4 linked regions of the Homo sapiens genome follow. The protein of the gene in region 1 interacts with the protein of each later gene in a pairwise test. Each region holds a gene or a part of one and is shown in the gene's direction. Other genes may lie near its edges. The genes, in order: ROPN1, AKAP14, SPA17 and FAM153A.

The links.
Region 2: the proteins of ROPN1 (region 1) and AKAP14 interact in binary tests that used the Homo sapiens proteins (3 or more experiments, as listed by UniProt).
Region 3: the proteins of ROPN1 (region 1) and SPA17 interact in binary tests that used the Homo sapiens proteins (3 or more experiments, as listed by UniProt).
Region 4: the proteins of ROPN1 (region 1) and FAM153A interact in binary tests that used the Homo sapiens proteins (3 or more experiments, as listed by UniProt).

What each region holds. Positions count from the first base shown.
Region 1 is NC_000003.12:123,989,105-123,997,109, reverse strand, and holds the start of ROPN1 (ropporin-1A), read left to right. Parts: upstream 1-4,985; 5' UTR 4,986-5,188; intron 5,189-5,751; exon of another isoform or gene 5,752-5,929; intron 5,930-8,005. UniProt on the Homo sapiens protein: Important for male fertility. With ROPN1L, involved in fibrous sheath integrity and sperm motility, plays a role in PKA-dependent signaling processes required for spermatozoa capacitation.
Region 2 is NC_000023.11:119,898,876-119,905,895, forward strand, and holds part of AKAP14 (A-kinase anchor protein 14), read left to right. Parts: intron 1-4,338; 5' UTR 4,339-4,348; coding exon 4,349-4,517; intron 4,518-4,619; coding exon 4,620-4,711; coding exon of another isoform or gene 4,712-4,720; exon of another isoform or gene 4,721-4,784; intron 4,785-7,020. UniProt on the Homo sapiens protein: Binds to type II regulatory subunits of protein kinase A and anchors/targets them.
Region 3 is NC_000011.10:124,669,031-124,676,913, forward strand, and holds the start of SPA17 (sperm surface protein Sp17), read left to right. Parts: upstream 1-4,873; 5' UTR 4,874-4,922; exon of another isoform or gene 4,923-5,072; intron 5,073-5,163; exon of another isoform or gene 5,164-5,463; intron 5,464-6,207; 5' UTR 6,208-6,234; coding exon 6,235-6,388; intron 6,389-6,394; exon of another isoform or gene 6,395-6,532; intron 6,533-6,540; exon of another isoform or gene 6,541-7,075; intron 7,076-7,154; exon of another isoform or gene 7,155-7,273; intron 7,274-7,883. Other genes in the region: SIAE (sialate O-acetylesterase isoform 1 precursor), read right to left, coding at 330-491, 4,612-4,678. UniProt on the Homo sapiens protein: Sperm surface zona pellucida binding protein. Helps to bind spermatozoa to the zona pellucida with high affinity. Might function in binding zona pellucida and carbohydrates.
Region 4 is NC_000005.10:177,779,884-177,787,433, reverse strand, and holds the start of FAM153A (protein FAM153A), read left to right. Parts: upstream 1-4,534; 5' UTR 4,535-4,691; intron 4,692-6,929; 5' UTR 6,930-6,985; intron 6,986-7,550.

The sequences.
Region 1 (8,005 bases):
GTGTACATGCCCTGTATAATCTCATCATCGCTGTAAGTCTGGGTGAGACCTATGAATATGAGGAGATTTCATTCCTGTGATTAATATTCTGTGGCAAAAGAGAACTTTCAGATGTAATTAAGGTCCCTAATCAGTTGACTTTGAGTTAGTCAAAAGGGAGGTTATCCTGGGTGGATCTGACCTAATCCAGTAAGCCTTAAAAAACAGACAAAAGAAACAACAACAGGTGCCTCTGCTGGCCTGGAAGAAAGCAAACATCAGTGTCGTAAACTGCCATTCCAGGGCCATGGAACTACGACGTGAAAGTGGCTTCTATGAGTTGAGAACAATCCCTGACCAAAATCCAGCAAGAAAATAGGGACTTCAGTCCTACATCCCCAAGGAACTGAATTTTGTCAACAACCAATGAATATGGAAGAGGACCCTAAGGCTCATATGAGAGCACAGCCCTAGCCAACACTTGGATTTTAGCTGGGCAAGACCCTTAGCGGAGGACCCAGCTAACCCACTCAGACTCCTGCCCTGTGGAAACTGAGATCAGAAATCTGTGTTGTTTTAAGCTGCTAAGTATGTGGTAATTTGCAATGCAGCAAAAGAAAACAAATGTATATGTGAAAGGAGTTTATGTACACAGGGTTGACTGGCTCCACGGGGAGTCTAACAACCACACCCCACAGCTAAATCACAGAATTGTGCTGAACCTGAGTATGGTGTACCCATCATCACTGCTCAGCCCCAGCCTCACCATGATCCAAGCAGCAGGTGGGACAGGGTCACTCTCGTTTCCTCCTATGAAATGGCACATTTAAGATCTGGGGAAAGTGACCCACAATATAAGCCACATAGGATAGGGAGAACTGACTCTCTGAGCTCAGAGATAGTATGAGACAGTTGATATTTATTATAAGGCTGAGATGGTAAGAAGACCGTCAGGATTCCCACTCTCTGGTGCCAGACCTATGGTTACTTGGCCAGATAGAACTTTAGTCCCTAAGATACTGAACATGCAAAGCTGAATGGACACTAAAGTATCATTTTTCAGAAGGCCCTCTTAAGGAAGGAAGGGGAAACAAGGTGGAAGGAGAGAAAAAAAAGGAGAATTTAATTCAGTAAACAAATATTTATGGTACCCATTATGTGCACAGTTCTGTTCGAGGCTCTCGAAATACAGCGGTGACTAAAACAAACAGAATCGCATGCACTCCAGTGAAAAAATATAGAGAAATCAATAAAACAAAAATTTAAAAATACATAGTATGTAATGATTATAAAGCAAGGGAGGAGTTGGAAGGGATATTGGTGTTCAACTTAAAAGAGTCAGATAAGACTCCCTTAGAAGGTCACATTTGGATACAAAACCGAAGGTGCTAAGGAATGAACCCTGTGGATACCTGAGGAAATCATGTTCCAGGCAGATGAAATGCAAGTGCACAAGTCTTGAGGCAGGAGAGGGTCTGGCCTTTCTGAGGGATAATAAGATGGCCAGCATGGCTGGAGGGAAGTGATGAAGGAGAAAAGAGAAAATGATGGGTTCAGAGAGTTTAAGGGCCTGTGGGTTATTTTGACTTTTACTTGCATAAGGTGGGAGCCACTGAGGGTTCTAAACAGAGGAATGACATGATCAGTCTTAGGTTTTCAGTAATTCGATCCTGCAGCTGTGATGAGAACAGACCCCTGGAAGGGAAGGGCGGAAACAGGGAGACAGGTTAGGAAGCCATTGTAGTGGTCCGGGTAAGAGATGAAGTTTGCTTGGACCAAGGTGATGGAAGTGGAGAGAAGTGCTCCAATTCTGAATGACTTTTGGAGATACAGCCAATAGCATTTGCTCTGATTGGATTTAAGGTGTGAGAGAAAAAGCAGCCAAGGATAATGCCAAGGTTTTTAGCCTCTATGAGGAAGCCTGGAGGAACTGGTTTGGAGAGGAATCTTAGAGTGCAGTTGGGGTGTATTAAGCCTGAGAAGCCTAATAGACATCCAGTGGTGCAGAGTAAACAGTTGGATGTTCTAATGTGGTATTTAGGGAAGGATTAGGGCTGAAGACATAAATGTAGTATCCAAAACATGAAACTGGATGAGATAAAAAAGAGAGTGCATGTAGATAGAGAAGTCCAAGTGTAAATCCTAGGGCACTCCAAGATTAAAGTGCCAGGGAGAGGAGGAAGAACAAGCAAAAGAGACTGAGAAAGAACAGCCAATGAGGAAGGAGAAAAACCAAGAGTCTAATGTCCTGGAATCCAAGGAAAGAAAATGTTTCAAGCATGTGAAAGTGATCAACAGGGTCAAAGGCTGCTGATAGGTTGAGCCGAGGCTGAGAGATGATTTTGGATTTAACAGCATGTCATTGGGGACTTTAACACAAGTCATTTCAGTAGAGTGGTGGGGATGAAAGCCTGGTTCAAGTATATTAAAAAGAGATTTGGAAGAGGGAAATTAGAGGTGGCAGGTATAGGCAACTCTTTTAAAGAGCTTGGCAATAAAGGGAAGCAGAGAAAATGGTCAAAGCTGAAGAGGAAAATGATGAAGGCATGTTTTTATGTTGATGGGAATTATCTAGTAGAAAAAGGGAAATGATGAGAAAGGATATAGTCAATATTCGTTCGTACAAGAAAATAGCAGAAAACAGTGTAACCTACTTGATAAAAGATTGTATGTAATAAAAGATTTTATTGTAATATTTAAGACAGATTTTTTACTGAAACATAATAAACACCCATGAACCCATCACCCACCCCAAAACTAGACCACTACCAGTAACATCTATGTGCTCCTCCCTCTCTACTCTTACCTCTGTTTTAGAAGAAAGCAACTTTCCTGAATTATGTTATTATCATTTTCCTGTAAAATTGTATTCTCTTGACTGTATCCTGTTATATTTATTGACTAACAGATCAAGGATAATCTAACCTAGGCCTCTCAACCTGGCCTCCTACAGACAGACATCAAATCGCCTCAGTCAGACAGTCCCATGAAATTCCTCCCTTGTGTTTAACTTGCTACACTAAAATTCTATTCTGTTTCATCTCCCATCTCTAGCTGCTAGTGCTTTGTCTGAAAAACCCCTTCTTCTGCACAAAGATCATTATTATTCACTCCTGTCAGCATTATTTACTCTGCATGAAAGCAGGAAGAGATTGGCACACCTTTATCCCATGTGCATACAACAGAACAGACCCCAGTGGCCAGAGCATTCTTGTTATCCTGGAAGATGCACCTGCAGCCCTCAAGCCTCCAGCCTCCCCCTCCCAACCTAAGGCACACCCTGTTTGTCAAGTGCCTATACCAACACCTGGCAGCCCCTCCACAGAGGCCTCAGAAAGGCAGGTGATAGCTAGTGACTAGGTTTCTTTCATCCCCAGATCTTGCCCTGTGGGCAGTGGCCATCCCCAGACCATCCAGGATTCTCCAGGTGTGCAAGGACCTACAGGATTTTGACAAATGCCAGCAGAGTGGCCTCTTTACAAATGGATGACAACAGGCTGTGAAAAGCTTTCTGCATGCGTAACCCAAAAATCTAGTTCCCCCACTTGTTCACTGATGCTTAAAATTGCTTTAGGGAGAGACAAAGGCTTTCATCTCACAAACAGAGAAAGCTTTGAAGGGCCTGGGTGAACTAATCTATTTAGACTAATACACACTGTTGTATAAATGGAATGAAGGATTAGATGATGCAATGGGCCCCTTTAAAATAGGTGTGAAGTGACACGGGATGTAGCAGAGAAAGATGGGGCTTTTCTTGCCTCCTTGGGTGCTTAAAACGAACAGTCTTGAGACCAGGTGCGGTAGCTCAAACCTGTAATCCCAATACTTTGGGAGACCAAGGCAGGTGGATCACTTGAGCCCAGGGATTCAAGACCAGCCTGGGCAACATGGCAAAACCCCGTTTATAAAAATATAAAAATTAGCCTGTCATCGTGGCAAGCACCTGCAGTCTCAGCTACTTGGGAGGCTGAGGTGGGAGGATTGCTTAGACCTAGGAGATTGAGGCTGCAGTGAGTCATGATTACCCCATTGCACTCCAGCCTGGGCAACAGAGCAAGACCCTGTCTCAAAACACACACACACACACACACACACACACACACACACACACACACACACACACAGTCTTGAAACCGGAAGACCTGGAGTAAAGTTGGGCCCTGAGCCCTACTGCCAGCTGTTCGATCACAGGCAAAATTACTCGAAGCCTTGAGCCTGTTTTTTATTTCCAAAGCGAAGGTAATACCTACCTTCAGAGTTTACTGTGAAACTTTGATGTCATCATGTTTGTAAAAGTGCCCTGGCACAGTGACCACATTCTACCCTATAAATATTTTCTATCTTTCCCTGTTGTCCCCAGGCATCTCAGGCTCTGTTCCTATCCACTCCATGCCCCTTTCTTAGCATTATAAGGTCAAGAGTGAGGAATCTGGGACCACGCAACCCAGATTCAGATCCTGACTCTGTCACTTGCTGACTGTCATCTTGGACAAGTTTAACCTCTCTGTGCTCAGTTCCCTCATCTGTAAAAATGGGGATAACAATAGTACTTGCCTCATGGGGTGACAGTAAGGATGAAATGAGTTCATGTGTGTAATGCACTTAGAACAATTCCTGGCACCAAAAACTCATTGTAAGAAGTGTTGTTACTATGATTCCTGAGGAATTCTCACCTGTCCACTTTCCACAAGCCGAAAGATCAAGCTCCACTTCTGCCCTCTCACCTACAAAAGCGCACCGTCAATGGCTACACATTCCGCCCCACCCCCAACGCCCCCAGCCCGGGTTTCCTAACGTCCCCAGCCCAGTCCTTAACCCTCCAGGCCGTCTGGTCCTTCCACCACCAGCAAAGCCCAAAACAGCTTTCAGCGTCCCCTAGCAGCGCCCTAGCGGGACCCTGGGAACCCGCCGCTGCAGGAGAGGCGGGGCGGCTCTGTGACGTCGCGCCCGGCGCTACCCCTGGTGACCTGGCAGCGGAGCCCGCGCAGGGTTTGCCAGGCGAAGGCGGAGCGCTAACGTCTAACGCTAACGGCGGTCGTGCCCCGCCGCTGCTGTCACCCCCGGCCGCTGCTGCCCTCCCCGCCGAGGTTCTACTGCTCTCCTTCTTAAGAAGGGTGGGAGGCACTCGGTCTCTCCCCACACCTCTCGCCTGAGGCCAGGCGCCAGGTGTCGCCTGAAGCCAGACAGCCGGTTTGGGAGCGAGCCTGAGGTAGCCACCCCGAGGGGAAGTGGAGGGAGGGCAGGGCTCTGAGCGCCCCGAGGGCTGCGCTGGTCTGAGGGAGGAGCCCTGCCGGACGCCCCCTGGATTCTGAGCCTCTCCTTGTTCACAGGGCAAGGGGAAGGCAAGGGGATCTTCAAGAGAATGTGACTGTGGGGGATTATGGCTTTCTGGCCAATTTGTGTGCGTATTTTGTACCCAGAATACTATTATACGGTTTCTTACCCGGAGGACAGTGGTTGGGAGGCTCAAGAGTTTGGAATCAGAGCCCTCCACCGAGGAGCCACACCTCTGCTTTTTCATCAGCGACAGGGATATAAAAATACCTCTGGGTGAATTGTCATGTGGATGTCATGGGCATACCTAGCACTTCATAGACTCCTATCACACATTATTTTATACCTAGCACTTCATAGACTCCTGTCAGGCATTATTTTATACCTGGCACTTCATAGACTCCTATCACATATTATTTTATACCTAGCACTTCATAGACTCCTATCACGCATTATTTTATACCTAGCACTTCATAGACTCCTATCACGTGTTCATTTTATAGCTAGCACTTCATAGACTGCTATCACGCATTCATTTTTACTAGTACCTATTGAACACTAAGTTCCAGGCACTGGGCTAGGCACTGGGATGGTGTGGTGAGCAAAAACTGACCAGTCCTGCCGTGGAGTTTGCTGGGGGAGACACATGTTACTCAAAGAATCACACTAAGGATAGGTAAGTGATGCTCTGGAAGGGTATGTACAATGGAACTGACAGGGTAATCAGGGAAGGTTAAGCAGACCTCCAAAGGAAGAATCAACCTGTTAAGAGGAGGAGAATGTATTCCAAACAAGAGTAACCACATCCCAAACCCACCATCTCCAATTCCAAACCCAAACAGGGATGTGCAGTTGCCTGTGCTTGGTTCCAAGTGATACTCATAGAAACCCTCTGAGATTCTGCCCTGGAGCCTTTCATTCATGTTACTGGAGACTTTCATTTATGAAACGGAAGCCCTGTTTAGCCCATACCAATAAAACCAAGTGAGAGATCCCTGAAACAAGGCTATAGTCTATTTTAAGACCTACATTCTTCAGCACTTGGCAGGTATATGTTGGCCTCCATTTTACATTGAGAGGCATGTAGGTTTCACTTAGGAGGAAATGCATTGAATTGAAAGAGTTGGGGTTATGGATAAGCTCTGGAATGTATAATTGAAGAAGACCTACACTATCAAGAGATTTAAAAATGGAAAATAACTTTACAAAATGTTAGAATTGAGGAATGTTAAGATAGAATGGACCTTTCTCCCACTTCTTTGATGTGAACAAATGACCCTTATTGCCCAAAGGCAGGAAAGCTGGGCTTTGGTGCCTCTTCAACTCAGAGAGTCTATGATTTCAACTCTGTGATTCAAAAGTGCATGGAACTCCTGAAAGTAAATGGGAACATGGGGGGATAATTTGACCTGACCCTCCTTTAGTGTTTTCTATTTCTACAAGGGTACCACCACTGTGCACCCAGTCATCCAAGCTTGAAAACTGATAGTCACTCTAGACTTTTCTGTCCTTCACCTCTTCCTCCTTCTCCACCTTCTCTTCTTCCTCCTCCTCCACCTCCTCTTTTCTTCCTCCTCCTCCTCCTTCAGTAGTTACCAAATCCTGTAGATCCTATCTCCTAAATACTTGTCTCTTATATCACTCCCTATTGCAACTACTTTTCAAGGCAGTGAAGCTCCTGGGAGTTGTCAAAAGTGCTGCCATATTCTCCTAACCTGGCTCCCTGCCTGAAGCTTCACCATCCTCTCTTCAGCTCATCCACACAGCTGTCAGTCAACGTGTTTCAGAGTCCAACAAAGAGAAATAAATCATATAGTAATTTTTTGAGCATATAATTTAACAAGAGAAGTTCAATATAAAGAATTGTTAATGATGGGATTGGAGTAATGAAGGATTGGCTAATATGTCAGGAGAGATCTAAAATATACAGGAATCACAGATATAAGGGGCAACCACTACCCCTGAGATAGATCACCCAAGGAAGAAACCTTTCCCAGAGCTTGGTGCATAGGGGATGGCCACAGCTGACTGGAGAGCAGAGAAATTGCTGAGGTGCCAGGCAGGCAAAATTTACTCTCTGAAACACCAGAGAAGCCATTCACTAAAAGGTAACTCACTGACAGCACTCTGCTATAGAGCTTCCCAAGAGAGGTGCCAGGGGACACTGCTAGCCATGGAGCACTGATAGCCACTGTGTACTCCAGCAGTTGGGCACTCAAAAGATCACACACTGCATGAAACAGATGCTAGAAAAGCTGTGTGCTACAGGATCCCAGCATAGGAGAAACTACAAGTTCCTGGAGCCTAGCAAGAAGAGCATACCTAAATTCCTAAGAGAAACCTCTTCCTCCTCCAGTCCTTCCAGTGCCCTGTCCTAACAAAGCATATCCTTATGACAGCTGACAAGGGAAAAAATGTTAAAGGACCTAGTTCAATTTTTGTGGAGGAGGCAATACAAGGTGAATTTGGAGCTGAGAGGCAAATATTGATAACCGGACCTAAAGCTAACACTGATTGTGTGACTCTTGTGCTTAAATTTTCTAGTGGTTCCCCATTGCCTTCAACAAAAAGTTCAAAAGCCCAAGCCTTGAGCTATATTTCCAGCCTTAGGCCCAACCACTCCTGCTTTGTCCACTTTAGAGCTCCATAATTACAGTTCCCTGAACTTGTCACGTTTCTGACAACCCCACATCTTTGCCTAAGTCCTTCTACCTACATGAAATTCTCTCCTTACTCTCATAAGTACACATAT
Region 2 (7,020 bases), on another chromosome or scaffold:
TGTGAGAATAAGGCCAGGCGCGATGGCTCACACCTGTAATCCCAGCACTTTGGGAGACTGAGGTGGGTGGATCAGGAGGTCAGGAGTTCAAGACCAGCCTGGCCAAGATGGTGAAACCCCGTCTCTACTAAAAATACAAAAATTAGCTGGGCGTGGTGGCAGGTGCCTGTAATCCCAGCTACTCGGGAGGCTGAGGCAGCAGAATTGCTTGAACCCAGGAGGCGGAGGTTGCAGTGAGCGGAGATCGTGCCACTGCCCTCCAGCCTGGGTGACAGAACAAGACTCTGTCTCAAAAAAAAAAAAAAAAAAAGGAAGAAAGAAAATGTGAGAATAGGGCCCTACTGCTCTTTCTCAATCTTGGAGGGAGAAGAGCAGCACAGTTGAGAGCATGGGCTGTGAAGCCAGACACTGTGGGTGTACAGCTCAGTTTCCTCATTTTCACATGGCAGCAACAGGCCCTCTGTCTGTGACTCAGGGCTCCTGTAGGAAACTGTTGGCATATTAAAATGAGGATAGCTGTAGAAGGGTTAAGTAAGGGAATATTTACAAAGGTGTGGCCAGATTGCAGGGCAACAGAGGAAGGTGCAGCTCCCCGGGGCTAGTAACAGTGGGCCTAAAACGTTGAGGGGAGAGAATGCTTACCCTTACCACACTGGGAAGCTGGGAGAGCGCCACCCTGAAAGACGCTGGGGACTTCATGCAGCCAGCCATCAGCCAACTCGCAGGGAGAAAACCACCAGGGACATACATTTTGACTTCCTGATCTCCTTATTGTGTGGAACCCCCTAGAAGCCAGAGGGCACCATTTATGGGTGCAGTCAGGTTAGTTTTCCAGGGCAGGAAGCAGGAGGAGATGCAAGGACAGTGGATTTGGAAAGGCAAATGGAAGGTGCCCAGCGCACTCTTTCATAGGGCTGTGATGACAGTTAAATGAAACATAGCACATTAAACACCCCCAAATTGGGAGCTGTTATTTATAGAAAAATAGCTCCATTTGGAGAGAGATACCCACTTTCATGTAGCCCTTCCACTCAATGGAAGGATTGCTTGCAACATACTTATTTTTTATTTTTTGAGACAGCCTTGCTCTGTCACCAGGCTGGAGTGCAGCGACACAATCTCGGCTCACTGCAACCTCTGCCTCCCGGGTTCAAGCAATTCTCCTGCCTCAGCCTCACGAGTAGCTGGGATTACAGGTGCTGGCCACCATGCCAGTCCAACTTTTTTTTTTTTTGAGATGGAGTCTCACTCTCATTGCCCAGGCTGGAGTGCAATGGCGTGATCTGGGCTCACCACAACCTCCGCCTCCCAGATTCAAGCGATTCTCCTGCCTCAGCCTCCCGAGTAGCTGGGATTACAGGCACGTGCCACCACACCTGGCTAATTTTTGTATTTTTAGTAGAGACGGGGTTTTGCCTTGTTGGCCAGGCTGGTCTTGAACTCCTGACCTCAGGTGATCCACCCGCCTCGGCCTCCCAAAGAGCTGGGATTACAGGCATGAGCCACCAAACCTGGCCCAGGCCAATTTTTGTATTTTTAGTAGAGATGGGGTTTCTCCATGTTGGCCAGGCTAGTCTCAAACTCCTCACCTCAGGTGATCTAACCCCTTGGCCTCCCAAATTGCTGGGATTACAGGCGTGTGCCACCGTGCCTGGCCATGTTTTTTATTTTCTCTGAGACAGGGTCTCGCTCTGTCACCCAGACTGGAGTACAGTGGTGAGATCACGGCTCCCTGCAGCCTCGACCTCCCAGGCTCAAGTGATCCTCCTACATCAGCCTTGTGAGTAGAAAGCTGGGATTACAGGCACACATCACCATACCTGGCTAATTTTTTAAACTTTTGTAGAGATGGGGCCTTGCTATGTTGTCCAGGCTGATCTCAATCCCCTGCACTTAAGCGATCCTCCCACTTTGGCCTCCCGAAGTGCTGGGATTACAGGCCTGAGCCACTGCACCCGGCTGCCTGTAAGGAATTTAAAGCTGTGCTGGAAGTAAGCAATTTTTCATAAGCAAAGAGACTTAAACAGTAGCAAGAAAAGAAAGGATTTAAGACTCAAGGGAAAAGATGTAAAAAACATTGAAAATGAGGAAAGACTTCTAGCTCTGTGATGGAGCCATCTTTACAGCCCTAGTAACACAAATTTTCACATTGTCAATACATGTTAAAGGCATCTGGAAGATTATAGCTATCATTTATGATAAAAATCTTACTAGAACAGGAACAGACGAATGTTTTCTTGATGTGATACATCTCAAACCACAAACCAGCATCATACTAATGGTGTAACACCAGAAAGCAAGGCCATTAAAGTCAGACACAATAGGAGGATGCTCATTATTTCCACTTTCATTTTACATTTTTCTGGAAGTATTAACCAAAGCTAATACTCATAAGAGATATATACTCCTGGAAAAAAGATGATAAAAGTGACAGTTTATTGGAGATGATATAATTGTATACTGTACTGGAAAAACCCAAGAGAGAGAATTATGAAACCAATATTCCTCTGCTGTAATGCCTCTACTCATTTTAACACTATCTTTATAGGCCAGGTGTGGTGGCTCACACCTGTAATCCCAGCACTTTGGGAGTCCAAAGTGGGTGGATCACTTGAGGTCAGGAGTTCAAGACCAGCCTGGCCAACATGGTGAACCCCCGTCTCTACTAAAACTACAAAAAATTAGCCAGGCATGGTGGCACACGCCTGTAGTCCCAGCTACTCGGGAGGCTGAGACAGGAGAATCACTTGAATCCGGGAGGCGGAGGTTGCAGTGAGCCAAGATTGTGCCATTGCACTCCAGCCTGGGCGACAGAACGAAACTTTGTCTCAAAAAAAAAAAAAACACTATCTTAGCCGGCGCGCTGGCTCACGCCTGTAATCCCAGCACTTTGGGAGGCCGAGGCGGGTGGATCACCTGAGGTCAAGAGTTCGAGACCAGCCTGGCCAACTTGGAGAAACCCCATCTCTACTGAAAATACAAAATTAGCCGGGCGTGGTGGCGCATGCCTCCAATCCCAGCTACTCGGGAGGCTGAAGCAGGAGAATCACTTGAACCTGGATTCTCCCGGGAGGCGGAGGTTGCGGTGAGCCGAGATAGCGCCATTGCTCTCCAGCCTGGGCAACAAGAACAAAACTCTGACTCAAACAAACAAACAAACAAACAAAAAACAAAACACTGTCTTTATACTTTTTTTTTTTTTTTGAGATGTAGTCTCCCTCTGTAGCCCAGGCTGGAAGGCTGGAGTGCAGTGGTGCGATCTCGGCTCACAGCAACCTCTGCCTCCTGGGTCCCGGTTCAAGCAATTCTCCTGCCTCAGCCTCCTGTGTAGCTGGGATTACAGGCATGAGCCACCATGCCCAGCTAATTTTTGTATTTTTAGTAGAGACGAGGTTTCACCATGTTGGCCAGAGTGGTCTTCAACTCCTGACCTCGTGATATGCCTGCCTCAGGCTCCCAAAGTGCTGGGATTACAGGCGTGAGCCACCGCGCCGGGCCTTTATATTTCTTTTTAAAAGTTAAGACAGGTTGGGGAGTGGGGAGATCTCACTATGTTGCCCAGGCTGGTTTCAAACTCATAGCCTCAAACTGTCCCCCTGCTTCAGCCTCCTGAATAGCTGAGATTACAGGCACATGCCACCACACCCACTTCATTTTAACATCATTTTAAAAGAGCCAGGTGCCCTCAGTTGCTCCTAGCAGGGATTGGGTTTCTTATCAAAGATTCAACTTGGAATCAATATTGCTAGGCACTCCAAAGAAGTGCTACTTTTTTTCTACTACATTTTGATTTAAGTCATTATGGTGTTTTTTTTGTTTTTTGTTTTGTTTTTGAGATGGAGTTTTGCTCTTGTTGCCCAGGCTGGAGTGCAATGGCGCGATCTTGGCTCACTGCAACCTCCACCTCCCAGGTTCAAGCAATTGTCCTGCCTCAGCCTCCCAAGTAGCTGGGATTACAGGCGCCCGCCACCACACCCGGCAAATTTTGCATTTTTAGTAGAGACGGGGTTTCACCATGTTGGTCAGGCTGGTCTTGAACTCCTGACCTCAGGTGATCCGCCCGCCTCGGGCTCTCAAAGGGCTGGGATTACAGGCGTGAGCCACCGCGCCGGGCCTCATTATGATTTTGAGAATGTGAGAATCCTTGGTTTTCAGGAAAAGTAGATAGCAGCAGCCAGGCACAGGTCTGACTCCTACCCTTAAACCCCTAATCCCCTCCCTAGAGGCAATAACTGCTTCCTGTCTCTTGTGATTCTTCAAGAGATGATCTGTACTTATATGAGTGCGTTCACATGTGTGTACACACACAGGCACACAGTAACTTCTTTTTTTCCCCAGGAAAAAGAAAATGAGTGAGACTCAAAATTCAACAAGCCAGAAAGCAATGGATGAGGATAACAAAGCCGCAAGCCAAACAATGCCGAATACACAAGACAAGAACTACGAGGATGAATTGACTCAAGTAGCTCTAGCTCTGGTTGAGGATGTCATCAATTATGCTGTTAAGATTGTGGAAGGTAGTGATCCTGTTTGTTTGGATGCCTAAATAATTGTCTATATAGTCTAAATATAGCACCACACTACCTGGCAACTAACGAACTCACACCTTTTTTTTGCAGAGGAGCGAAACCCTTTGAAAAACATCAAGTGGATGACTCACGGTGAATTCACTGTGGAAAAGGGTCTTAAACAAATTGACGAATATTTTTCGGTAAGTTAGGCCGACCACTCCAGCATGGTACACCGGTGTGAAGAACAATAAAGAGACTCTCAGCAGATCAAAAGTTTGAAGTCTGGAAAATCTAGGAGATGGTATCAAAGGGGGCTGACTAGAATAAGTAAACATCATCTCCATCTCAGTTCCAAAATCAAGGTGGGATAGTCTTTGAAGGTGAAATGCACAATCACAATCATTTTCCCTGTGTCTGTATCATTCTAACCTTACATTTCCCTGGGAAAATCTGCTCTTCCTACTTAAGCAATTTGTCCATGCTGGTGCATTAAATGGGGGCCTAGTGGCCTAAGGAGGGAGATGCTCCTCCAAAATAGGAGTTCTCCACCACCATTATTTTGTTTATTTTTTTTAGAGACAGGGTCCCACTCTGTCACCGAGGCTGCAGTGCAGGGGCTCGATCCTAGCTCCCTGCAGCTTTGAACTCCTGGGCTCAAGCGATCTTCCCACCTCAGCCTTCCAAGTAGACAGGCACGTGTCACCACACCTGGCTAATTTTTAATTTTTTTTTGTAGAGACAGGGTCGTGCTATGTTGCTCAGGTTGGCCTCGAACTCCTGGCCTCAAGGGATCCTCCTGCCTTGGCCTCCCAAAGTGCTGGGATTACAGGTGTGAGCCATTGCACCCAGCCTCCACCACCAACTTTAGAATGCTCCTGTTAACAGAGGGGATGCAGATGGATCAAAAGACTTTTTGATTTGGCTTTGGAATATATTGCCTGCATAGTAAGATGTACAATCCCATGAATTCCTTTGTTCTTCTGCCTGTGTCTGACTCTGACTTCTTCGTGTGGCAGCTTTGCTGAGAAGGCCCTGGATTACTTTGCATAACTGGTGAGTGAATAAAGGAGAATGGCTTGGGCCAGGCGCAGTGGTTCACATCTGTAATCCCAGCACTTTGAAATACCAAGACGGGAGAATCAATCATTTGAGCCTAAGAGTTTGAGACAGCCTGGGCAACATAGTGGGACCCCATCTCTATAAAACTAAAAAATTAGGCCAGGCATAGTGGCTCACGCCTGTAAGCCCAGCACTTTGGGAGGCCGAAGTGGGCAGATCACAAGGTCAGGAGTTCAAGTCCAGCCTGGCCAATATGGTGAAACCCCGTCTCTATTAAAAATACAAAAATTAGCCAGGCGTGGTGCTGGGCGCCTGTAATCCCAGCTACTCGGGAGGCTGAGGCAGAAGAATCGCTTGAACCCAGGAGGCAGAGGTTGCAGTGAGCTGAGATTACACCACTGCATTCTCAATCCTGGGCGACAGAGCAAGACTCCGTCTCAAAAAATAATAATAATAATTAGCCGGGCGTGGTGGTATGCACGTATAGTTCCAGCTACTCAGGAGGCTGAGGTGGGAGGATCACTTGAGCCCAGGAGGTCGAGGCTGCAGTAAGCTGTGATTGTGCCACTGCACTCAGCCTGGGTGACAGAGTGAGACCCTGTCTCAAAAAAAAAAAAGGCTTGAAATCCTTCTCATTGTGCTTCTGTGGAACAGAGACCAGTTGAAATTGGTGGAGGCGAACTCCCCTACCCCTGGGAAAAGTTCCAGCTCTCTCTGTTCCCCAGGCCAGCACCTCAAAGCCTACAGCCCTCAGGGCAGTTTCCCAGGCCTTAGGAAGGCCTGGTCAGGTGTGAAGGAGGAAAAGTCAGGGATTTCTGGCTCCACGCCTTCTATGCTCCAGCGGACGCCACTCACCGTTCTCATTAGGAGGGGTATCTTGAGCATAGTGAAGATGAATGGTGCAAGTTATTCTTGAGCCTTCCTGCTGTGGAGCACTTCTCCATTTGGGGTTGGGCAAAGGCCCCTGCCTACTGCACTCAGGGTTCCTGAATCAAACTAGAATGGAACACATAGCAAGTAGGAAAAATTTCCCTTGCAAATCCCACTGGTCATTCTGAGTAAAAGGCAAAAGTAAGTCCTGACAATGGTCTACAAGGCCCAATATGATCTGAGTTCCCTTTCCCCTCCTGATTTATGGTTCAGCTCCCATCACTCCTTCCCCCCTCTCACCTTCTTCCCTCGGCCACACTTGCCTCCTTGCCGTTCCTCGACTGCCAGGCATGTTCCCCTGTCAGGACCCTTGCTCTTGCTGTTCCCTCTGCCTGGAACCCTCTCCCCTAAGATGTATACCCATGGCTCACTGCTTTACCTCCCTTCAGATCTTTGTTGAAAACTATCACCTGCTCATTGAGGCTTTTCTTGGCCACTTCATCTAAAATCACAACCCTCTCCACTTCTCTGATTCATTTTTCCCTTCGCACTTCTTTCTGCCTACTAGAGTCTATTTACT
Region 3 (7,883 bases), on another chromosome or scaffold:
AGTCTGAGTTCAATGTTTCTCCTCTGTACCCCAAGACACCCCACATGTACCTTCATCATAGCATTCATCACGCTGTCCTATATAACTTGGTATCTATTCCCATTATTCTGTAAGTTCCTTGAGAACAGGAACTTTGACTCAGTCTTATTTTTGTTTGTATCCTCAGTGCCTAAGCACATGGCAAATATTCAAATAACTTTTATGGATGAATGGACAGACGGATGTAGGGACGGATGGATAATGTGAGCTACAGCATTAGCATTCATTTTCAGATAATCCAGCAGGTGGCAGAAGAGGGCAATAGCTGAACGGAAGATGGGCTGCCTTACCTTTCACACTGGTCACTTTCTTCATGATGGTTTCCTGACCTTGGCGCAGGGTCACGGTCACTGTGGCTCCAGGTGTACCGAAGCCCCATATCACTGCCCCAGCAGGCTCCTTCTGCAGCACCATATCATTATTGATGTATGAAGCAAAGCGAAAACCAATACCTAAAAAATTTAACAAACACTGAGGGAAGCATCATCGGAGAGATATAGCACCAACTGGATCAAGTGAAACAGCAAAGAACATACAGTCTTTATGCAAGAGAATTTTAACATACTAAGTCCCTTTAATCGTCTAAAACTGGCTCTTCTTCCTCCTAATTAGGCAAGCAACATAACAAGAACAGTTTCCAACAGTATGCATCATAGCACATGATGACCACTAAGGAAAATTCCCAGAGCCCAAGGCAACCAATGGACCATAGTCTTCCCTCTCCTTCAGAGCTCTTGATCTTTTTTTGCTCTTGGGCTTGGCCCTAACGCTGGGCTCTCTCCCGCAAAATCACTAAAATGCTCCTTTCATGCACCTATAGATGGTGTTTATGAGAAAAATAAACCACTTCCTTTCCCTACTTTCCATTACCACACCTGCTCCTAATGACTGGGAATAAAACAGCATGCCTCTCTCCAAACAGCCTTCCCTAATCTTTTTCCCCTTCTCTATCTCCCCTTTTCTATGCCACTAATGCCAATTTCCTTCAAATAATGCCCCTTATCATGGTTTTTTGACAACCCAGTGTACTGCATCAAAAATTCTAAATAAGCCCTTATAAATACTCATGACAAGTCAGCTTCCTTCTCAGGTAAATTCAAATAAATCAAGACACATAAATAAGGTCAGTGAGAGATAGAAGGTCAACATGTCTGAACAAAGGTCTTCTGTCACAATTTTACCCATTCCACAAGCTAAATTATACTAAAAGGACAAGAGAAAGCACACTAGAAACTGGATTCTATTCTAGAGAGTCACTAACAAGACTGAATAAGAACTCGCTTTAACGACATCATTCCTATTTTTAACATCCAGCCTATATAAAAGTATTTTATTAATACAAACATCCATCCAAATTATCTCAGCGTGTTCCTCATCAAAACTTAACAAGGAAAAAAATAAAACAAATTATATCCCAATTTATCTGAATAAAACAGACCCCAAACTACCTAAAATAATTAACAAAATTTAGATCTTTTTAAGCATTTTAAACAAAAATGATAGGCAGAAAAGAGAACCAGAATTAACAAGGCTGACATTTTCCTCCCTGGAAGCTACAAATGATGAGGGCCCCTTCGGCTATACTTAACAGGGCAGCACAGCTAATGGAGTCGCCTACACAGCTCCGTGGCCTATTTATCCTGCTCTTGGAATAACAGCCCAGTCCCTAAAAATCCTCAGCGCTCTCTTATGAGCTAGTGTGATCAAGAAACCTACATGACAATGAAAGATCACCCAGAAGGCCTACTGGGCTGGAGATGCACGGTTACCATGAGCAAAATGCTCTAAGAAAAGAATACAACGCCCCAGAATTGCATAAGCAGGTTGGCAGCCTGCTGGAGGGAAGGGGGAGGCACATGTGTGGGAGGGCCTTGTCTTGGGTAGGTGCTTCATATGGAACCAAAAAAAGGAAAACCACAGACATAAATAAGAGCTAAGTAGAGAGAGGGTGGGGGTAGGGGAATGGCTGCAGCTTGCACATTTGTGTGCAGTCAGTAGTCCATAGGCTAGGGGAAATACCTTCCCAAGTCTGTCTGTTTTCACCAACATACACTTAGTGAACATCTTTGTGGATGACTCTGTGCTGGGCTAAAGAGTTTTAGAGGTGGAAAGGATCTTCATAATCGTAGTATAAACACGCTACTTACTGATCAAGAAGTATAATCATATTACTGATCAAGTAACTGAGACCAAAGCAGATGAAACAATTTTTTAAAATAGCTTGCATGTTCATTAGTTAATTCAACAAATATTTATTGATGCCTACTATTTTAAGCATTGGGGATATAACGATGAAAAAATAATAATAATAATAGCAGGCAAAAATCCTTGCCCACAGGGAGCTTCCATTCTACTAGAGACTTTACCTGTGGCAGGCACAGTGCTAAACACACCACAAACATTAATGTTCTTTGGTCTCAAATCACACAGTTTATGACAAGTTAGAAAACAAGTCACTTGATTCCAAAGTTGAAATTCCCACTTTGCCGAAATTAGATACTTGTGGCAAATCAAAGAAAAAATCATATTCCTCATCTTTGTAAAGTTTAAATTCTAAGTTCATTAGAGTAGACAGTGGAACATCAAGGAATTGTGCAATGGACAAAAAAAAAGAGAGAGAGAATGAGAAAGAGAGCAAGGCTGGTCATTCCTTGTGCCAAACACAAGACACATACATTTACCATTTGATTTCTTGTTTGTTTGTTTTTTTGAGACAGAGTCTTGCTCTGTCACCCAGGCTGGAGTGCAGTGGTGCGATCTCAGCTCACTGCAACCTCCGCCTCTGGGGTTCAAGCGGTTCTCCTGCCTCAGCCTCCCGAGTAGCTGAGATTACAGGCATGTGCCACCACACCTGGCTAATTCTTTTTTTTTTTTTTTTTGATATCTTTAGTAGAGACGGGGTTTCACTACGTTGGCCAGGCTGGTCTCGAACTCCTGACCTCATGATCTGCCCACCTTGGCCTCCCAAAGTGCTGGGATTACAAGCATGAGCCACCGCGCCTGGCCAATTTTTTTGTATTTTTAGTAGAGACGGGGTTTCGCCATGTTGGCCAGGCTGGTCTTGAACTCCTGACTCTAAGTGATCCGCCCACCTCAGCCTCCCAAAGTGCTGGGATTAAAGGTGTGAGCCAACATTTGGATTTTTTAGGTCTTCAGTTTTTTCCTTCATTTGGGGCTGGAGTAGAAAAACAGGAATTAGTGTTATGGGGAAGAGAGGGCAGTGGTTGCCTCTGGTGAGGAGCTCCGGATGCATTGGCGAGGAGCACAATGGCAGGCTCAATAGACTGGCAATGTTCTAGTTCTTAAGTTGGGTACTGCTCTCATGGGTGTTCATTTTATTGTGTCATTGTTACATATAATTTTGTACATCTCAAGCATTACATGGTAAACATGGGCACAGGGAGAATGACTTAAAGGAAAAACGTCAGGATACGCAACCAAGTAGAGTACTAATGAATGAAAAATGTGATCAATGTTAATGAAGGTGATGTAACAATAAGACCCAAAGGAGGAGATAAAATACTGACACTAAAATAAACAGCCTTTAACTGAAAACCTAATAAAATATCTTTTCCCCACCTCATAAGATGGATCTCAAAGGTCACTGAGTGGAGATAAGAGTCAGGAAATGGCATACAGAGTGCTAGCATTTTGCACTTTTGTTAGACTCTGAACAATCATTTATGGGCTGCAGTTTGTCTGAATCTAGGTACTTTTCCGGCTCTCAGGTAGAGCAGGAGTCATTTTTCTGCACGCTGTTCTCCTACCCCAACTATCATTTCTTAACAGGGATCTCTGGGGTCCACTCTTTGAGTGTTTTGAAACAGAAAGGAAGAAATCCAACATTATCACTTTAGTTTGCATTATCAGACAGATTGCACCTTCTGCTTTCTCCATACTGTGACCCAGTGTCCAGCCTAGGGTATTCGAATGGCAAGATCTGACCTGCGCAACAGCCAAAGGGAGCCACCAGCCTCCCCTATGCCACTCACATTTTCCCACCACCAATATCTGTAAGCGGTACCAGAAATCAAAACTGAGCCTTAAATAGTCAGAGCTAGTGAGGGGGTTGTATTTCTTAGCCCTGATAACCACTTAAACGAGTAAAATTTAATTCCCCTAAGGAACCCCGCCTGAAGCAAACCCTCCCCAAGGGCACCACTGAGGGGGTAGCGCTGAAATGTTTTGGAAGATTCAGTCACCTGTTTCCAAATATTACCTAACTAGCTTCGCCTCCTTCCCTCCGAGCTCCCCTGCAGTTACTCCAGGACCCCGAAGGCCTCTTTCTGGGCACATTTGGGCCTCCCCACTCAGACAAGCCGCACTTTCTCCCTGCTCACAGGCTGCATGTCAGGGATGGTAAGTGGGGGGTGGAGAAAGTGGAGAGGCCGGGGTTCAACCCAGCAGACTCCTGCAGACCGGGCCTCGGTCGGAGACGCGAGCCCCTAGCCTAGCTAGGTTCCTTCGTCGACCTTGAGAAAGGGGCGCGGATCCGTGTCCCGCAGAGGACACGGGGTCTCGGAGCCCGCACAGGCTGAGGGGCAGGGGTCCGGCCGAGCCGGGCCGCCTCACCTGCACTTCTGTCGGCCCACAGGATTAATGGCAGCACCAGCCCGAGTACAAGCCCCGGCGCGACCATGCTTGCAAGGATCTGACCGCCGCCTAGGACTGGGAAAGTGGGTTCCCGGCAGGGGCGGGGCCTGGGCGGGGGCGAGGCCGACTCCACCCTTTTGCAGTCCTCGCAGCCTCCCGCGACCTCAGGACTGGGCTGTACTCGCCCCTTCTCGGCCGCCGTAGTTTTTTTTTTTTTTTAAAGAAAAAACGGTTACCCAGCAACTAGAAAAACAACCGGAACCGGCGGCACCAGCTCGGAGAGAAAGGAGGTGAGGCCGCTTCCCCACTTCCTCTCCGATACCAAGACCTAGCCTTTTCCCTTCGTCTCTCTTATTCTCTCAGCATCCCAGACACAGCCTCGGAGCCCTGGGCCGTTTGGGAGCCGAGGCAGCCCATTCTGCGCGAGTCTGAAATCCCAGGTCCTCAACATCCCGCCCCCGACTAGACCCGTCTGCCCCCTCCGCCCGCCCTCCTCTGCCCACATTGGTTCAGAATCTCGCCAGCTCTTTTCACCACTCTAGAATGGTTCGATACCCCCATCTACTGCTCCCTCAGAAAAAGCAAAAGAGAGGAGTCAGGCGTGGTGGCGCGCGCCTGTAATCCCAATTGCTCGGGAGGCTGAGGCGGGATCATCGCTGGAGCCCAGGAGTTCGAGGCCAGAGACCCCCTCTCAAAGAAAAAAAAAGCGATGAAACGAGAACCCTCCATAGTCTGAGCCTCATTAAACCGTCCAGTTCTCCCAACCTGGACCCCTACCACGGCCTCCGCCTCTATTCCGCATTGACGCACACTCTCACATTAACAGGCCAGGTCCCGGAGGATTCTTTTCATACTCAGTAGTAGCTCAGCCCGCTGCTTAGCAGCTACCCTTAATCTAGCCCTTGTATTTCAAGACAGAAAGAGACAACCTGATCAAGAAGAAACCGAAAAATATAAGAATTCTAAAACTTTAGAGGCTGGGATTTCAAAATCATGACACACAGCCCCATCCCATCCCATCCCTCCCTCACACACACGCACGCACAACCCCATTCCACAGTACGAAGGTGTTCGAAGCATTGTGGGTCATGCTTCAGAAGTGGCAGCAAGGGGAAAGATTGTGCAACTTCTTCATTCAACAAATTAATTTCTAGAACCAGGACTAATTTCTACTCTTTAAAAAAAAATAGACCTCAAAGAAGGTCTTCTCAGCAATTGACAATGAATTTAACTTTTTAGCAATCATTCTCTCTAAATTCCTGTGTGATAGCAAAAATTACCCTTACCTTTTGAGCATATAAAGGGTAAAGAGAGAAAAAGTCATATTGAAAATTATGGGTTTTTTGCAGGATTTTAAATGATTTGGCCTAGTGAATGGGTCTGTGTTTGTATTATACTAATTCACAATGGAGATTTCAAAACTCTTTGGAAGAAATGGATGGGCTTGGGTTGTGTTAGGGAAAAAAGAATTCAAGTCCAGATGTATGAGTCTCAGAAATAATTTGTTGGCATAGTTGTGATTATATAAGTAAAATCAGACAAATTTAAAGACAGTACTCTTTAATGAATCTTTAGGTTCCATAGGCAGTTCTTACCAAGAAGATGTCGATTCCATTCTCCAACACCCACTACCGAATTCCACAAGGATTTGGGAATCTTCTTGAAGGGCTGACACGCGAGATTCTGAGAGAGCAACCGGACAATATACCAGCTTTTGCAGCAGCCTATTTTGAGAGCCTTCTAGAGAAAAGAGAGAGTAAGCTTTCTAAAATTAGTCATTTTTTAAAATAAGAAACTAAGCATTTGTTTATGGTAAAACTTGCTTAAGACCATCTCCATTCTGCAGAAAGCCTTTTATGAGGCAGGGAGTTTCAGATAACAGTTCTTGCTCTTTGAAACAGTATGTACCTCTTTGATATGTTCTCTTAAATTCGTTTCATATTATCGAAGATTACCAGTTCATTATTCAGACCGTCTTCATTGTATTTCTCACGGACATACAGCGTGGAAGGTAACTGCAAAAGAGCATACATTTCTCGGGAGAAATCAGTGGGGGAAAAAAAGATCATACAGTCTACCCTCGCCACGTTCCAGCATACTGTTCCTATGCATCCCTGGCAGCTGACTGTTATTCCTGAGATGAGTATCTGTGGTTTCCTTTCAATTTTGATTCCTTCCATTTGAAAGTATTTTAAGTACTGCAAAAAGAATTCTGCACTCTTTAAATAAACTGATATTCACTGGGGTATATGAAACTGTTCTGCAATAACGGCACAGACAAACTGATTTGAAAGGTGGAATACCAGTTTGGAAAGGTAATTTATATTCTTTATGCTAAATTCCATCCTGCACAGAGACCCAGATGCCCACTAACAATAACTATTTGGTTGAAAGCCAAGGCAAAATTCCTTCACTCCTATAAATAAAATTTACAAATCCCCAACCTTGAAGGTTTATGACTGTCAGGACTTTACCAGTTTTGTACTAAAAACCTATCCTAAGCCAGGCATGGTGGTGCGCACCTTTAGTACCAGCTACTCAGGGGCTGAGGCAGGAGGATCACTTGAGCCCAGGGATTCAAGACGGTAGTGAGCTATGATTAAACCTGTGAATAGCCACTGCACTCCATCCTGGGCACTCCCACGACCCCTGCCCCAACCCCTGGAAAGCCATTGTTGATTAGAACATCCATTTTGTATAAATTCTTGTCATCATTACTTTTTATTACAGTATTCTAACAGAGTGGTAAAGGTGACTAGAAATAGGCACAAGCAAACAAACATTCTATTGTAATCATTTTATAGTGGAAGAAAACCTAGCACAAGGGTAGAATTAAAACAACTCCCACACACACTGCATAGCTCCACCCCTTGCTTTTTTTGCCCTGCCCTAGCAGAGCTCAAAATCTCTGCCAATTTCCTGAATGTTGCTGGTCTTTTCCATATCCGGTCAGGGTGAATATCTGTTGCACAATCTGAAACTTTAAATATTTTCCACTGAAAACATTTGATAAACTATATTTAGAAGAGGAACGTTATTAAGAGAAATCATTTGGCAATAGACTTGGGGGCCTATGTGAGAGCAGAGGTAGGAGGAGGGTGAGGATTGAAAAACTACCTATCAGGCATTATGCTGATTACCTTGGTGACAAAATTGTCTCTACACCAAAGCCCCTTAACACAGAGTTTAACCATGTAACAAATCTGCACGTGTATCCCTTGAACCTAAAATAAAAGTTGGAAGGGGAAAAA
Region 4 (7,550 bases), on another chromosome or scaffold:
AATATATGGTGCTGGGAAAACTGGCTAGCCATATGTAGAAAGCTGAAACTGGATCCCTTCCTTACACCTTTTACAAAAATTAATTCAAGATGCATTAAAGACTTAAATGTTAGACCTAAAACCATAAAAACCCTAGAAGAAAACCTAGGCAATACCATTCAGGACATAGGCATGGGCAAGGGCTTCATGTCTAAAACACCAAAAGCAATGGCAACAAAAGCCAAAATTGACAAATGGGATCTAATTGAACTAAAGAGCTCCTTCTGCACAGCAAAAAAAACTACCGTCAGAGTGAAGAGGCAACCTACAGAATGGGAGAAAATTTTTGCAATCTACTCACCTGACTAAAGGGCTGATACCCAGAATCTACAAAGAACTCAAACAAATTTACAAGAAAAAAATCAAACAACCTCATCAAAAGTAGGCGAAGGATATGAACAGACACTTCTCAAAAGAAGACATTTATGCAGCCAACAGACACATGAAAAAATGGTCATCATCACTGGCCATCAGAGAAATGCAAATCAAAACCACGATGAGATACCATCTTACACCAGTTAGAATGGTGATCATTAAAAAGTCAGGAAACGACAGGTGCTGGAGAGGATGTGGAGAAATAGGAACACTTACACTGTTGGTGGGACTGTAAACTAGTTCAACCATTGTGGAAGAGAGAGTGGCGATTCCTCAGGGATCTAGAACTAGAAATACCATTTGACCCAGCCATTCCATTACTGAGTATATACCCAGAGGATTATAAGTCATGTTGCTATAAAGACATGCACACGTATGTTTATTGTGGCACTATTCACAATAGCAAAGACTTGGAACCAACCCAAATGTCCAACAATGATAGACTGGATTAAGAAAATGTGGCACATATACACCATGGAATACTATGCAGCCATAAAAAATGATGAGTTCATGTCCTTTGTAGGGACATGGATGAAGCTGGAAACCATCATTCTCAACAAACTCTCGGAAGGACAAAAAACCAAACACTGCATGTTCTCACTCATAGGTGGGAATTGAACAATGAGAACACATGCACACAGGAAGGGGAGCATCGCAGACCAGGGCCTGTTGTGGGGTGGGGGGAGGGATAGCATTAGGAGATATACCTAATGTAAATGATGAGTTAATGGGTGCAGCACACCAACATGGCACATGTATACATATGTAACAAACCTGCACGTTGTGCACATGTACCCTAGAACTTAAAGTATAATAAAAAATATATATATATAAATTTTATTGGGACTATTTTGATTCTACACCACTATTCTTTATTGGGTGTAACCCAGCAGGTCCACGAATAATAATAATTATTATTATTACCTTTTTTTTTGAGATGGAGTGTCACTCTTGTCACCTGGGCTAGAGTGCAGATGCGCAAAAGAGTGAGACTCTGTCTCAAAATAAATAAATAAAATAAAAACAGGAAAATACATTTGTTGACCTCCTGGGTTGTGCCCAATAAAGAATAGTGGAGTTTAATAGCGGTTCACTGCAACCTCCACCTCCCAGCTTAAAGCGATTCTTCTCCCTCAGTCTCCCAAGTAGCTGGGATTACGGCACCCACCACCATACTCAGCTAATTTTTGTATTTTTAGTAGAGACAGGGTTTCACCATGTTGGCCAGGCTGGTCTCAAACTCCTGACTTCAGGTGATCCGCCCACATTGTCCTCCCAAAGTGCTAGATTACAGGCGTGAACCACCACGTCCGGCCTAACAAATGATTTTTCATAGGTCACTGGACATCAAGGAGCCACTTGTGAACCAGGTGGAATGCAGGTGGGATGCATAGCACATGGCCCACAGGACCTGCACTGTGGGTTGGATACAGTAACGGAAGGGGCCTTTGGTCTTTCTTTTTTTTTTTTTTTTTTTGAGAGAGAGTCTTGCTCTGTTCCCCAGGCTGGAGTGCAGTGGCGTGATCTCGGCTCACTGCAAACTGCGCCTCCCGGGTTCACGCCATTCTCCTGCCTCAGCCTCCAGAGTAGCTGCTGGGACTACAGGCGCCCACCACCACGCCTGGCTAATTTTTTGTATTTTTAGTTGAGACGGGGTTTCACCGTGTTAGCCAGGATGGTTTCGATCTCCTGACCTCGTGATCCACCCGCCTCGGCCTCCCAAAGTGCTGGGATTACAGGCGTGAGCCACCGCGCCTGGCAAGGGACTTTGGTCTTTCTTGCTTGGGGCTGGGATGAGTGTGTACTTGTGAGAAGAAGGAGGCACAAGGCAGATTGGGTGGCCACAGCTGTAACCTGGAGCCACAGAGCAGGCTTCTGTTACACACTATTCTTCTTTTCTTCACTTTAACAGAACCATCCCTTGAGGTTTAGCTGGGGGCACCTGGCTGCCCAGCTACAGACTAGATTTTCCAGACTAATTTATATCAATTTTCTTTATTCCTTTAAAAGTTGTTTATTTATTGCACTTACATACTAAGATACCATTCTCAAAGGACCACGAAAGCAGAAATGGTTAATATATGAAGCTGTCTATAGGCATGATAGAATAAAAAGTTTAAAAATTATTTGGGTCAGGCTTAAATAACTTTAACAGGTTAAAAAAAGTGTTTGACAATATTCAACAAATAATTCTTCACCTAATTTCTTATTGAAGCAATCACCTTAATATTCATTGGCCTTGATAAATGTGAACACTGGTCATATTTATGTAAATAATGGTCATGTGGCTTTCTTGGCATATCTAAATTCATGTTAGATCTGGCTTAACCTGTGCTTATGTATGTATATGTTACAGTTATGTACATTAAATGTGTGTGTAAGAGTTGGAATTATTTGAAAGATAGCAAAATTTTAACTAGAAAAAATAAGTTAATATCTAATAATAGTTGACTTGTTGATTAAAATAAGTAGTTATTATGAAAGAGAAAAAAGGTGATTTCAAATTGATTCAGAAGAACTGGCCTAGCAACTAAGATTGTATGCTTTCCTTTTTTTTTAAAAAAAAAAAGAACGGATATAATGTTATGTGACAATTAAATACAGAAATTACAAAACTAGTTAAATTGATGTTGCCATTAAAGCAACATTAAATAGTTTTGGGGGAGAAGAAAGAAGCCGAGAAGATGGTATCTGTGCAGTTAAGATGGTCATGTCATTTGATACATGTAAACAGAAAGCAGCCTGAGGCCCACACCTGCACCATGCTGAAAGAGCTGACCAGCGTTATATGTTCAGTCCTAGATGAAATGCTGCATTTGTTTTTTAAACACTGGTATGCATTGTTTTAAAAATGTATAAAATAACAGTGAAAAGTTAAAGAATCGTAAGAATGTAGCTAAAGGTAAAAAAAATTTGCAAAGCCATAATTTTTATGATGAAACAATATATTTTTTATCTTTTACGTATAATGTTTTAATGCTTTTTTAGCCCAATGAAATGTGGAAGTGTTTTGTGATTTTTATCTTACTATAGTGATTGTTTTATAAACAAAGAAAAAATTAATTCAGGATTGCAGATATGGTAAACTATTAAAATAGTTTGGGTATTAAAATATGAAATAATTGGGTATTAATTCAAAATCCAAGAGTTGCCATTGAACAAACCTGTAGGCATAGGTAAGTGCTGAGGTGAAAGTGCCAACCAAAGCCGTTAGATTGAACATTTATGCCTGGAGGGAATCAGTAGAGGAACTGGCTGTGGACCTTCACCTCTGCATCCCCTTTGCTTTCTGCTGTAGCTGGGTATCACAAAAACAACAACAAAAGCCACTTATTTCTTAAAGACAGAGAAAGGATAGTTCCTTCCATTTAGGCATTCCTAAATTGCCTCCCCGGTGGCCCCTGCGCTCTTGGAGGAGGTCAAGGCAGAGCAGACCCTCAGGTGGGGGAGCGATGCACTTGACCCTGAGGACATCAGGTACCAGGCCCACTAGCCCCCGCAGGCGCGGAGCTGCGGCTGCAGCCACCAGCCTAGACGTGGCGCGCCCGCAGCAAGTGGCTGGACACCGCAGACCAGGCCCGCGTCCCCAGCAGCGCGGATCCCGGGGCCAGCCGCCCAGGCAGCAAAGTCAGGCGGTCGGCTTCGCCAGCAGCCGATGAGTCTCATCCTGTGGATTGCCCAGCGCCAGGGATCAGGATCCGGAGAGGTGTCCAGGAGGAGCAGACCCTCAGACCAGGTAGGCTGTGCACTCAGTGACCCTGACGCCATCCAAGGGAAGCTCCGCCATCCCGCGCCAGTGCCAGAGCTGCAACTGCAAACTGCGCGTCCTGGCACGAGCAGCGGTGGGGGCGGGTGGGGGAAGGAGCGAGTGACTCTCCAGGCGTCTTCCGCTACCTGACACCAGCCAGGCAGCCCCCAGGGCCAGAGCGTCAGCGCCGAAGCCAGGCTCATCCGGGAAGCCACTCCGGTGGCCGCGGGGTGCCCATGCCAGCACCAGATCTCTCTTCGGAAGGAGGAGCGGGGCGGGCTACACGGCCAGGCGGGCCCTCCCCTTAAGGCGGGGTGGGCCGCGCGCCTGCGATTTTCCGTCCGTGGTCCTGGGGCAGCCCTGGCCAGCCCAGGAGAACCCGCGAGCCCAGCGGCGCCTGCACCTGCGGCTTCCGGGAGCCGGGCGGCTTTGCGAGGCTCACTAGGTCTGAGAGGTCGGAGGCCGCCAGTGTCGCTGCTGAAGGGTGGACCAGGCGGGATCGCGGATTCTGGGCTAGATCGCAGACTTGGTATCGCGGATTGGGATTTGGATCGGGGATTTTGAGTTGGATCACGGATTGGGGGTTGGATCACGGATTGGGGTTTGGATCGCGGATTGGGGGTTGGATAGGGGATTTGGAGTTGGATTGGGGATTTGGGGCTGGGTGTGGGGCGAGGGGGAGTGAAAAGGTGACACGGAGCTGCCGCGGCTCAGGAGCCAGTGGTTGGGGGTCTGAGAAGAACTCACCACCTTGAAGAAGTTCTTCGGCTTTGGGAGCCGCAGGGGCCGGCGGTCCGGGGCTCCCTAGGCCACGTCTACAGGGGTTCGGGGTACCGAATCGGAAGATCCACAGGGCGCTGTCAAGGGCGAAGCCGCGGAAGTGGAGCGCTGCCTGGCGCGCAGGAGCAGAGACCTGGAAGCCGGGGACAGGCAGCACAGGCAGTGGGGTGGGGGCTCAGCCCAGGGTGGGAGGGGGTCCCCAGGCCCGGCTTCCCCGCAGCCCCTGGGATGGGGCCTCAGAGGGCACCCTCAGAGGGGTGGTGCCAAACGGAGCCTCAGCTGCTCTGCATCCCCCATAATTCCCCAGCTGGAGCGCTTGGTGGAGAATGTGAGTGATTTAACTCACCAAGCTAAGCATACACAGTGTTATTTTTAACCTACACGTTTAAAACATGGTGTTATATACATTATAGGAGGTGCCTAATGAGAGAACTCATTCCTCTATCAAAAAATACCGTGAGTCGGCCGGGCGCGGTGGCTCAGGCCTGTAATCCCAGCACTTTGGGAGGCCGAGGCGGGCGGATCACCAGGTCAAGAGATCGAGACCATCCTGGCTAACACGGTGAAACCCCGTCTCTACTAAAAATACAAAAAAAAAAAAAAAAATTAGCCGGGCGTGGTGGCGGGCGCCTGTAGTCCCAGCTACTCGGGAGGCTGAGGCAGGAGAATGGCGTGAACCCGGGAGGCGCAGCTTGCAGTGAGCCGAGATGGCGCCACTGCACTCCAGCCTGGGCGACAGAGCGAGACTCCGTCTCCAAAAAAGAAAAACAAACAAACAAACAAAAAACCGTGAGTCATTTTCAGTAGCGAAAAGCTCTCACCTAAAACTGTCCGTTTTACATCCGTATCCACCTGTGTAGATCGGTTCTTTACTGAAGGTTCTTAGAAGGAAACTTGGAAGTGGGAGGTGGGTTCTGTGTTCCTGAATGGGAAGACACATTTTTCTCAAAATGTGAGCTCTTTCTGTGATTATCAATTTTACATAAGCCGAATGAAAAAATCAAGGTTTTAACATTTTTGCATGACACCTACTGTCTTTTACTATTGTAATGACATTTGTAAAAATTTTAGGGCTGGGCGCGGTGGCTCAGGCCTGTAATCCCAGCACTTTGGGAGGCCGAGGTGGGCGGATCACGAGGTCAGGAGATTGAGATTGAGACCATCCTGGCAAACACGGTGAAACCCTGTCTGTACTAAAAATACAAAAAAAAAAAAAAAAAAAAAAAATAGCCGGGCGTGGTGGTGGGCGCCCATAGTCCCAGCTACTCCGGAGGCTGAGGCAGGAGAATGCTGTGAACCCGGGAGGGGGAGCTTGCAGTGAGCCGCCATCCAGAAGTGCTGGGATTACAGGTGTGAGCCACCGCGCCCGGCCTGAAAAGTGCATCTTCATTTTACAGGGAATTCTTTCAAATCAAATAATCAAAAACTGTAAAAGGGGGCAAAGTACTTTTTTGCAGATCTACAAGTTTCTTATGTAAATAGGAAAAAAAGCCTTTGCTTTTCTGGTATAAGAATTTAAATTAAAAGAGGAATGAAACTGTTTTCTATCCACAATGTGTGAGGATGTTTTTTATACTGCTGCCTGAAGTTTAAGTTGCTGATTACTTTTTAAATAGATAATTTGGTGGTAAGTACTATATTTTAAAAATGCGTATGCCCGTTACCCTTCAATTCCATTATACTAAAATACCCTTGGGAAATAGAGATACATGCACTTTGTTTTTCACAGCACTTATTTTAAAAAGAACCCATAGAATGGATCTTATAAGTAAATTTCAGTTGCATCCATAGGATGCAATAATATGTGACCATCAAAGGTGACAATAGATATAGAAGTACGTTGATGTGCGAAGATGTATTTTGTTTTAGCCAGCGAGGAAAAAAGAATCAGTTTGATTACACATTTACCAAACATTAAGAATTTAATATGGTAACTTTTATTTCAGTATTAAAATAGCAATTTTATTTATTACTTTTTTATATACAGAATTCGACACCAAATTTTGGAACTTAAAAAGAAGATTCTTAAAACTTACAATCCAGGTAAGACTTCTGATAGTGAATTTCTCATTTCTCATGGTGGTCCTACTCTTGGTTTAAAAAAATTAAGATGTAAGATTAAGGTAGTTTTGAAGGAAAAGAAAAGTTTAAAAAGATGTGTAAATTGCATGTATATATACATATATACATACATGTAAATTAGTTTCTTATATTTAACTTCTTTAGTTTGGAATTAAGAGTTATTTAAGAAGGTAGTTGTAGCTGATTTATAATCTCAAACAGTATTATCTGAAAAAAAATCATTTACTTAATTATGATCCCGAAAATCCTATATAATATTTATGTTTTCTCTATAGTCACATTGTAACAAATTGGACTTGTTATACATATGGATCTTCTAGTTCATTTTTGTAATAAGTTGTTTATTTTTATAATAAATTGTTTATATTTAGTAAATACATAATTACACTTGACCCATGAATAATGTGGGGGTTAGGGGCTCTGATTCCAGTGCAGCTGAAAATCTAAGTATAACTTTTGATTTTCCCAATTTAGCTACTAATAGCCCACTATTGACTGGAAGCCTTCCTGATAACATAAACGGTCG